Linked DNA regions of Homo sapiens: region 2 is linked to region 1. The links come from fine-mapping of genetic effects on gene expression. A gene starts in region 1. The other region holds a variant in brackets. All regions are shown on one strand. Distances are from middle to middle. Region 1 holds the start of SLA (Src like adaptor). Region 2 overlaps TG (thyroglobulin).

What was found. PIP is the estimated chance that this variant, and not a neighbour inherited with it, causes the effect.
Region 2: its variant is fine-mapped to the expression of SLA in whole blood (TOPMed, PIP above 0.99). The same link has a PIP of 0.9 or more in CD4 T cells, NK cells, T cells, Th1/17 cells, Th17 cells and Th2 cells.

Annotation. Positions count from the first base shown.
Region 1 is chr8:133,099,234-133,104,611 of GRCh38, reverse strand. SLA (Src like adaptor) reads left to right here and starts at 2,010. Exons shown (of 9, transcript NM_001045556.3): 1 at 2,010-2,059. All of the region lies in intron 43 of TG (thyroglobulin), which reads right to left.
Region 2 is chr8:133,046,785-133,052,162 of GRCh38, reverse strand. All of the region lies in intron 41 of TG (thyroglobulin), which reads right to left. SLA (Src like adaptor) reads left to right here. Exons shown (of 9, transcript NM_001045556.3): 4 at 1,248-1,347; 5 at 2,175-2,261; 6 at 4,230-4,333. Among named protein-coding and RNA genes, the nearest start is that of MIR7848, 2.9 kb to the right of the region's middle. RefSeq lists an enhancer at 1,952-3,151. The variant A/C (reference allele first, on the strand shown) is at 2,137.

The DNA of each region.
Region 1 (5,378 bases):
TTGGCTATTGTGATACCGCATTTTCTTGGTTTTCTTCCAAAGCTGTATCTACAGCCCTGACCTCTCTACTGAATTCCCAACTCATATAGTCAGCTGCCAACGCGAGATATATCCCAAATCTGATCATTTTTTACTGTGACCATGTCTGCAACCCTAATTTAAGTTACTAGCTCAACCCCTGGATTTCCACAATAGAGCCCAATCTGATCTCTACTTCCTGGGTCACACATCTCCTTAGTCAATTTTCCATATAGCTGCCAGAAATGTTCCTTTTTAAAACAGTGGATCAATATAATCACCTTCTATTATTAGCTTGAAACATTCCAGTAACTGCCCACTGCAAGGAGAATAAAGTCACTTTTCTGATGGCCTGAAAGATCTCATAACTGGTCTTCTTCATCCCTCTGACTTCCTCTCCTCCCAGTCCCTCCACTGGCCACTGGATCTCCTAGCACTGACCTCCCTGTGACCCCCAAACAGCCAGGACCACTCCTGCCCCAGGGCCTTTGCACCCACTCTGTACCTCAATCCCCATCGCTGGCTCCCCATTGCTCAGGCCTCAGTCCAGAAGTCACCTCCTCCGAAAAGCCTTCTCTGACTGCCCCTAAAGTAATTGCCCCATTCCATCGCCTCCTCTGCAATGGCCCCACTTCAGTGTTCTTCAGGGCATTTCTAAGATCTGAAATTCTTTATTTACTTACATCATCTGTGTCCTTTCATGAGAACATGAACTCTCCGAGTCAGAAGCTTTATCTGTTTAGGTTACAACTGTGCCCTCTAAAGCCTAGAGAGAGTCCAGCGCACAGAAGCCTCTGAATAATCTATGTTGGAGAGATGCTGCATGGGTTAATGCTTGAATGACTCCTGACTTCACTGCTCCTTATGGTGTTAAGGGACAAGGACTTACTTCTCCATCAAGCACAGCTTGCTCAGGGCCAAGGGCTCACTGCACTTTTAGGAACTCACAAAAGTCTTTTCTTTCTAATTTCTTTTAAAATCAGAAGAAAAAATATAATAATAATGAAAATGTAATAATGAATCCAGCCTGGTTTACATTCATCCTTATAACAATGCAGTCATGAAATACAATATTTTAATATTTTGGGGGGGACAAGTCAGTCCTTCTGATCCTCAGCTTTCTCTGAACCATAATCCCAGCTCACAGGGCCCCTGGGGAGAATTAGACAACGTGACGTGTAAGCGTCAGCTGTGAGGGGTAATGTGGGGCTATAGCTCCAGGGTGGAGGGTTTACAGTGTGCAAGGGCATCCTAGAGCCATGAGACCTACAGGGCTCTCTGGGTGTTGGGAGATACCTCTTTCGCTTCTTATAACACTGCAAGAGACAGACAGGGTGGCTCTCACTGTGTCCATTTGAAGGCTAAAGAAACTGCAGCTCAGACCAGTTCAGCAACTCTCCTACATCGTGTGGCTAAAGCTAAGAATTGTGACCCATTTTTCTGAATCCAGGTCCCCGCGATGCCCTGGGTTCAGACCCTAACACCCTCCCGTCCCTGAGTGCTGGGGATTTAAGGCAGCAGTGCCTCCTTTCAGGAAATCACACACACACTGGAAACTCCTGCATACTCCTCTTACTATAATCTGTCACCAAAGACTGGATATTCCTGTGCTGGGGCTCGTGCCAGCGCCTCGGGCTGCCAGGTGCTGCTTTCCAACTCCCACATGGGCTGCCCTCCCCCTACTGCTACCCACAGGGCCCCCACTCCACCTGCTCCCAGACGAGGCCAACTCCTGGCCAAGCTTAGGGGCACAGCGGAGGCGCTCTGTTTCTGATTTTTCTCGCCTTCCTTGGAGATGCCTGTGCTTGGAAGGGAAGGCAGAACATTGCATCTTGGAACAAATCTGCTTTTGATCATGCAAATGAATGCCTGGATAATGTAGGCAGACTGTCAATTTCACCAGTTAGAAAGAAAGAGAAAAGGGGGAGAAATTCCCCATGACAGCGACTGATGAAGAATTTCAATAGAAAGCTGCTACTTCAGAAAATAAGATCATTTGCTGCGAATGGAGAACATCTCAGGCAGCCCTGATGCTCCACCGGTAGGTTGCTAACTTTGCTGTCATTGGGACCCCCTGGGTGGGCCATAGGTGGCCTGGGGTGGTATGTGGGGGAGGGTCTTCAGAGGGACTTGATGGATCCTGTACCCACCCTCCGTCTTTGGTCTGAAGAAAATGGGTGGGTCTCTGCTGGTGGTGAGTAGCTCCAGGGGGCAGGACTTGGGGTAAGAGGCTCCACTCCTGTCCCTCCGTGACTTCCCTGGGAAGCTGCACTGCATGTGTTTGTGGACTGGGATCCAGCTGATACTTATGCAGCGTTGGCATGAGTAGAGAGCATGCATTTGTGTTTACTACAATTTGGAAAATTGGTCTCAGGTCAGCTGAGGTGGTTCAGAGATTGGACGTTCTTTGTATTCCTGCTTTCTGTGTATAATTATCTGAAGAAGGGATAACAGCTTTGGACACTAATCTTAATATTAAAATTAAAAAATTAAGGGAAAAGAACGAACATTTATTGAAGCCAAACTATTTTCCAGATATTGTTGTGTATTTGAATTTTTGAACATCTTTATGAGGATATTTACTAATCATCTCCCAACTTCACAGATAGGGAAACTGAGGCTCAGACTCTGGGTAACTTGGATGCTCGTGATTGCAATCCAAGGACACCCAGGACACTCTCCCTGCTGTGTTGACACATGACCAAGGGAGCGGGGTCCTGGTCAGTTCCTGGCCATTGTGTCACTCCAGCTGACAGTGCTGCTATGGGGCCCAATGGCACCTGATCTCCACCTCCTGAGGTCTTGGAATAGATGTCCATCTCTCCATATAGTATGTATCAATGGTGTTTCAGTTGTTTGCCTTGTCTGTTATCATCTGACTGCAAGCCCTTCTGAGGGGAGGAATTCAATTTGTATTTTATGCTGAAACACCTGGCCCAGCATGACTAAACAAACAGGTGTTGGTGTTACAAAAACATGCTGGACACCCTGTTTAGGTGGATGTGGCAATTTACTGCAATTGATATGTCCTGTTTCTCAGCCCCAGATGGGGCAGGAGGGGCTGGGTGGGTATCAAAGGACAGAGGATGGAGTAAAAGGCATGGCTGAGATTGAGGCCCTCCAGAACCTGCCATCTTCAGGTCCTCCTTGGCTGATGGTGGTTGGACCCAGGTGCCATGGAGCCTTCTTGGGGCAAACAGAGAAATGCACAAGCCCAACTCTAAATTCAGGTTGGGAGTGGGCTGAGGCAAGGGAGGGCAATACAAGGGCACATTGGGTTGAAGTCCAGAGGAGTTTCCTCACTGTTGGGAGGGTGGGAGCATAGCTCATAACTCAGTTTCCACTTGGTTGTCCACTGTGCCCTCTTGCAGTTCTGTGTGGGGTAGAATCCTGAGGATCTCTCTAGGTGATGCTTGCGTATGGTGGGGGTAAGGTGGTGATAGCGCATCCCTGACCTAGTGTTTATCACAGATAGGGTAATGGGTAGAGCCTGCCACCCGCCACCCTCCCCACTCCTGCCCTGCAATTGGGGTCAGAGACCTGCAGTGGAGACTTGGCTTTCCAAAGGACTAGTTAGCTGACCTAGAGACACCCGGTAAACCTCACTAAGCCTTTCTTTCCCAGAAAAAAAATCGTGTTAAATACTGGTTCATGGTTCCCTACCTCACAGCCATACAGTTGAGATAACGTAAAGTAAGAGCATGAGTTACTTCACTTAGGCTAACCCCTAAGGCTATTGAAATTTTAAAATTATAAATAAATCAATAAATGACTACAGAAAAAAAAGAATGTGGGTAGAATTGGAAAGCCCTTTGCACATAGTAGCCTTTATTCTAGCTGGGTTTGTGTACATTTCAGTACCCAGCATACCGTTGATGGTAGATGGAAGGCTCTCAGAGGAAAGCCTGGCTTTTCCCAGAGTGACGTCATGGGAAGAGGATATTTGGAGGCAGATAGAACTGGGTTTTAATTCTGGTTTCTCTCTGAAAAATAGTAATAATAATCCCCACCTCATAGGGTAATAGTTGTGAGGGTGAATTATTTCATTGAAGACTTCCAGGTTAGGGCCCAGCACATAGTCAGTTCTTCATAATTTCATTCATTCATCCTAGTGAATGTCTATTGTGTGCCTGCTGTGTGCAATTTGTCTAGCAGAACTAGAAACATTTCTAGGCACCAGAGATATAGCAGTTTCAAACATTCTAGTTGGGGAAGAAAGACAACAGACAAATACATAATATGGCAGGAGGTTTGAGTGCTGGGGTAGGGTGTAGGATGTAGGGATAGAGAAGGCTGGGGATATGGCTTCCCTCTGAATCCAAGTGGTCAAGCAAGGTCTTTCTGATAAGCAGACCCTGAAGGGAGTAAGGCAGTGAGTTGTCTGGGAAGAACATTCCAGAAGAAAAAACAGCAAGTACCAGGACCCTGATATGGGATGTGCTCAGCCTATTTGAGAAACTCTAAAGGGATAAACCAGTGAGCCAAGAGGGAACAGCAGGAGTTAAGGTCAGAGAGCTAACAGAGGTCACATCAAATAGGCTCTGGCAGTTCATAGAAGACTGGAATTTTCCTCTGCATGAGAGGAGGCCACTGGAGAGAAGGCTTGGAGCAGAGGAGTAAAATGGTCTGACTTATAAAGGGATTGCTCTGGCTACTGTGCTTCTCATAGATTATAAGAGGCAAGGCAGGTGCAGAGAGAGAGTTGGGGGCTAGCACAAAAATCTCAAATAAAGTGGCTGGATCAGGGTGATAGCAGAAGAGGTAGGGGAGCAGGGTTTGGATTTGGGATACATTTGGAAAATACAGCCAGCTGGATTTTCTGATAGAATGCTGGTAGGGTATGAGAGAGCAGTGTCAGGAATGACTTTTGGTTTTGAGCCTGAGTACAGAAGGATGAGTTGTTTAGTTGCTGAGTTGTTTACTGAGATGGTGAAGACTACAGAAGAACATGCTGGTTGGGGATGGGAGCAGAGGTGGAATCGGCAGTCCACTTTGGGTGTGTTATGGATGAGACACTATGAGACATGTAAGTGAAGATGTCAAGTGGGCCATTGGCTAAACCAGTTCAGAGTTCAAGGGAAAAGTCCAGGAGGAATAAATCTGTGTGCAGACACATGTTTAGGAGATGATTGCATGCAGTGGCACTGAGCTGTGAGCTGGCTTCCAGTCCCACCGTCACTACTCTCCTGCTGCAGGTAGTCCTCCTCATCAATTAGCACCTAGATGAGTTCTTGGCAGGATGCAGGCTCACAAAAGCTGCTCAGTGGCTTCACTAATGCGTGTCCCAAGGGAATGAATGAAGAAGCGAAGCCAGAAACGAACGGTCTAACCAATGAACAAATGTGCTGGGGGAACACTGC
Region 2 (5,378 bases), 52 kb after region 1:
AGGCTGCAAGACATATGAGTTGTAAGAGGCAGGATCTAGAGGTGTGTGGATCCTAGAAAGTGGCTTGTTTGGGCCCCAAAGCCCACATGCCTGAGTACTGGGATTTCTCCAGATCTTGGGGTGAGCGAACCAGGGAACAGTTCCTCCCATGACTATTTATGTATCCTGTAGAACATGAGCTCCGTGAAAGCAGCAAGAATGGGCTTGCTTTTCTCACCTATGCTGCTTACGACAGGTGCTCAGTAAGTAGTTGCCGAATGAATAAACAGGTGATGTTACCCAGAATTTTAAGTTCAAAGTCCCAGCCAGCAGGTGGAGTGATGAAAGTCATAGCAAATAATAACTGTATTTGCTGATACAGAAGACATCTTGTTATTTCCCCCAAAAATGTATCCAAATATTACCCTGCATCTAATGCATCTGAATTACATCAAATCACTAAGGATAGAAGCAGACGTATCGCTCAGTGTCAAAAAGCAAAATCACTGTCTCTCCTCTACAGTCAGGAACCAGACAGCCCTCTTTCCTTTTCAAAACTTCACCAGAATTCCTTTCAATACACTATTAGGAAAAGTACTAAGTTTTTCTTCCACCACCCCCACCCTCAACAAATGTCCCTATTAAATAGATGCCCAGCGTGGGGCCTTATATTCTGCAAGAAATAAGTATTTTGTTTAACCTCAGAGTTACTGCCTCATGGTCCTAATGGGTCCTCAGAACTCATTTTGCCTCACACTCCTTCCCCAAAAGTGTCATAGATATAACAACTCTGAGTCCCAGAGTGGACACCCGAGGCATTGGTAGTGAGAAGGGGGGTTTTTACAGCAACTTATGTGAACGTATGTGGTGTAACATACTCTCATCTCCTCTCCTAAGGACCCTGGAATGAGGTAGTATTAGTCCCATTTTAAAGATGGAGAGGGTGAGGCTAGTAGACTCGTAACAGGCGCTGAAGCCAGACCCCATGACTCATCTCACAGCCTTTGGATCCCATTTCTCAGATGAGAACATGAGGGCCAAGGCAGGCTTAAGAATAGGAGCATGTCACCTGACCCTCAGGGCTCGTACGCACACCCTGCAGAGCCATCTCTGAAGAGAGGACCTTGCTGTAAATTGGTGGTTCAAAACAAGAAAGGTATTTCCTGCTGGAAAATCTCATCTTCATACCCTCCCTCCCAAGCCTACCTTTAAGCTCCTTGTGAATAAAAAGCACCTTGCCCCCTTCCCCCTTGCCTTTGTTTCCCCAGGACTGGATAGCGACTTCCTTGCCGTGCTAAGTGACTACCCGTCTCCTGACATCAGCCCCCCGATATTCCGCCGAGGGGAGAAACTGCGTGTGATTTCTGAGTGAGTCAGCTCTCCAAAACTTGTGCAATCTTCAAAGCAGGATAAACTTGGTTTGGGAGAAAAGTATTTGATTGTTAGCTAGAGTGGTCTAGTTCCACATGAGTCCTGGTCCTATTATGAGGTGAGAAATTTGACCCATACTGCAACCTTCCTCTTTAATGTGGCCAGTGCTCTAGAACCTTCCATAGCTCCCCACTGCCTGGTAGATCAAATTTAAATTCCTTAACTTGGCTTTTGAGATCCTTTATGATCCAGCCTCTTCTCATATTCTTCTTATCTCCCACCACATGTGCAGTGTTGATGTTATGTAGGAATGAAGACCGGGAAGGCAGCCCCCAGGGTCTGGAAATCCTTCGGATGAGAAAAAACAAAAATTTGCCTTCTCTCCTCTTACCTCTGCAGTCTGATTCAATATGGGCTATAGAACATGACAGAAGTTCTAAGCCCCTTTTATTTAGATCTTCACTGATTCAGATATATGAAACTATCTTTGGCTATACTGCAGAGCATAAATCAACATAGTAAACATTTATTTTTAAAAAGCCTCCAACAGTTGGGAACATTAGCTGCTAATCCCTGAAAAGCAGCTATTTCTAGCACATGGGAGGGTTTACCAGTTGGCTTGCAATGGAGGGCTATCCACTGGACACATATCCTTTAAAAAGAAAATTTTCAGATGACGAAATATGGGTTAACGTGGCCAGTGACAGATCTTAAAAGAGGAATGTTCCAAACTGTCCTGGGTTAAATCTGATTACTCTGTTCATTCATCCTTTGGTTTTGCTATTT[A/C]CCTATCTCTGTGTTCTTCTCTGTTCTTGTTCTTACAGTGAAGGGGGCTGGTGGAAAGCTATTTCTCTTAGCACTGGTCGAGAGAGTTACATCCCTGGAATATGTGTGGCCAGAGTTTACCATGGGTGAGTACATTTCTCAAATGGCAGCAATTAAGCATGATGCGTATGCTGGTGACTCATAAGGTGGAACAAAGATTCCAGCATTCATAGTGGTAAGGAAGGCACTGGGTCAAGAAGAGATAGTCCTGCTCCCAACCCAGTCAATAAGGAAAGGAGCAACCTTGGGCTAACTTATCTCTTCTGCTCTCTGGGACTCAACTTCTCCCTCAGTAAAATGAAGGAAGTTGGACCTTTCAGCTCTAACATGGTGCTCCTGGCACAGAGTGGTAAACAGCTGGGAAATGTTATGGGAGGGCACAGCACAGTGCAGAGACTAGAAGTCAGTGTGTCTAGGTTCAAATCCTGCCTCTGTCACTTACTGGCTGTGTGCCAGTGAACAAGCTTTTTATGCATCAGTTCCCTTTCCTCACCTGTCAAGTAGAGATCATAACATAGAACGACAGGGATAATAATATATGATAATATGATCAAAGTGTAGGGTTGTTAGGAGAATAAGATGTAATGATACATGTGTAGTTCTTGGAGCAATGCCAGGCATTACAGTAAGCACTCGATAAATATTAGCTCTATTCTAATCAAATACCTATCCAGAAACACACAGAATCCTTACTGCCAAAAATGCTTATGTGCCTTCCTTGAAAAATGGGTAAGATAAACAAGAGATATCTTAGAAAACTAGGCTCAACAGATAAGAAAATAAGCACCCTGCTTTCCCCTGTAGTCGTTCCAGTGAGGCCTCTGCAGCCTCCTGGGTGGCTTTGGAGCCCTGAACACCTGGGCACAAATCTTGGCTTCCTTCCTTCCATGTGAGGGTCCTGTAAAAGTCGCTTCACCTCCTGGAGTTACATTATCCTCATCTGTCAAGTGTCGGAAGCTGGAAGTTGGCAAAGAAATGCAAAGCACATTGGAAATGGAAAAGAAAGAAGGAGGCATCCATTGATAAACACTAAGTTACTTCTTCATGTCCAGAGGACTCTACATGCCACATGCTCATCTTGCAAAACAGAGATAACCACCTGAATCCTTTGAAGACTGGAATTCTGCGAGTTTAATTTTAGTATTCATGATCTTAATTGTGAATACCAGATGCCACTTCCATGCTTAGGATGATGAAGCTAAACAAAACTGAAGCAGGAGCTGCCGTGGGAGTCACGTTCTGAAAGAGATGGGAGTCACGTGACTCTCCTACATCAGCTGCTTGCCCTGGAGCCATTCATTCACTAGCAAGCATGCATCAATGCCTTCATGCTGAAGATGTGAGGCTGCAGCTGGCACGAGCTGGGGGTGGTAAGGAACCAGGAGGAGTGACATAATTATGACCCTATGAGGCTACCAATCCAACAGAGGTGATCACATCCCTTAACATATCAAATAGGAAGAGCAGGGCTGAGCACGGTAGCTCACGCCTGTAATCCCAGCACTTTGGAAGTCCGAGGCAGGTAGATGGCTTGAGGTCAAGAGTTCAAGACCAGCCCAGCCAACATGGTGAATCCCCATTTCTACTAAAAACACAAAAAGTTGCCAGACGTGGTGGTGCATGCCTGTAATCCCAGCTACTTGGGAGGCTGAGGCAGGAGAATCACTTGAACCTGGAAGGTGGAGGATGCAGTGAACCAAGGTCACGCCACTGTTCTCTAGTCTGGGTGATAGAGCAGGGATCCATTTCCAAAAAAAAAATTACATAAATAAAAGGAAGAGCAGCAGTGAAGTGAGGTGGTTATGGAATTGGATGTCCCAGAAAAATGCATTCTAATTTTAACTCTATCAACTGCTGACATGGTTTCCTGAGCAAACTACTTAATCACTGGAACCCTCAGTATTCTCATCTGTGGAAGAGAGATGATGCTTCCTGTCTCAGTGGGTTGAGGTGAGGATTAGGTTTCAGGTGCTTAGTACGGTGGGTGGCGCATTCCTGCCTTTCCTGGGGGAGGGCTTGTTCCGGATCCTAATGGCTGTCTTCCTCCTTCCCAGCTGGCTGTTTGAGGGCCTGGGCAGAGACAAGGCCGAGGAGCTGCTGCAGCTGCCAGACACAAAGGTCGGCTCCTTCATGATCAGAGAGAGTGAGACCAAGAAAGGTGAGTGGCCCCCAACTCATCTTTCCCCATCCGGGGCAGACAAGCATGTTTTGCTCCTGGCTGACTCATTACACGGCTTCATTTTCCTTCCTCCTACGTCCATGCAAATTGATCCAATGTAGTTAAGCTCCCTGCAGCCCACACGCTGCTGGGGAGGCCAGTGGGGAAGCAAGGGGACTAGAGACAGGCAGTGGGGAGCCGGCTGGGCACTGCCACGGGCCTGGCCAACATCAGGCCTGATGACTCCTGCTGGAAATTTTTCCAGCAACTGAGAACAAAACTGAACGCAGTGTGTAGGCAGCATGCTGTGCAGATAGAATGTGGCCTTTGGTATGGGCCTGGGCTGTGCTCTCAAGCTCTGTGACTGATTTGTCTGAACTCAGTTTTCTCATCTGTGAAATGGAGAGAACACCTCTCCCTTGTAAGGGTGTGGTGAGATTCAAATGTCATAGTATTTGTGTTGCTCTTGCTGCACAGACAGTCCCGATATCAGTTTCCTCTGTGCTCCGTAACTAAATCAGACAGCTCCGAGAATCACATGTGTCCTCTCACACAGTCACCATCATCACTAGCATTACAATTTCCTTGCATCATATGCATTAAGTACCACAGTAAAAACACAAATAGAGTGAGCTCTTTGTCATGATGCAAAGCAAGGGTCCCAAGTTCCAATTTTAGCCTTACAAATTACTAATTTACTGCTTCTCTCTCTCTAAGCCTCAGCTCCCTGATCTAGACCATGAGATTTACAGTAGGAGAGTACCATGTTTATCCCCAAATACTTAACAGCTAGGGTTTTCCCAGACTGAATAATAATAATAACTTTTTTAAAATTCAGAAGGTATCTTCAAGTTCTTGGCTTGCTTCTTGTACATTCAATATCAAAGAAGAGAAAACACACTATCTGAGAGTACTTCCCATGCACCTAATAAGTGCCAAAGCCACCTGGTGCTAGAGCCCTTCACCAAAATGAGCATCAGCCTTGCTTTCAGAAAGCAGGGACCACATATATATGATTTAAAAAAAATCTGCGATCAACTTTTCT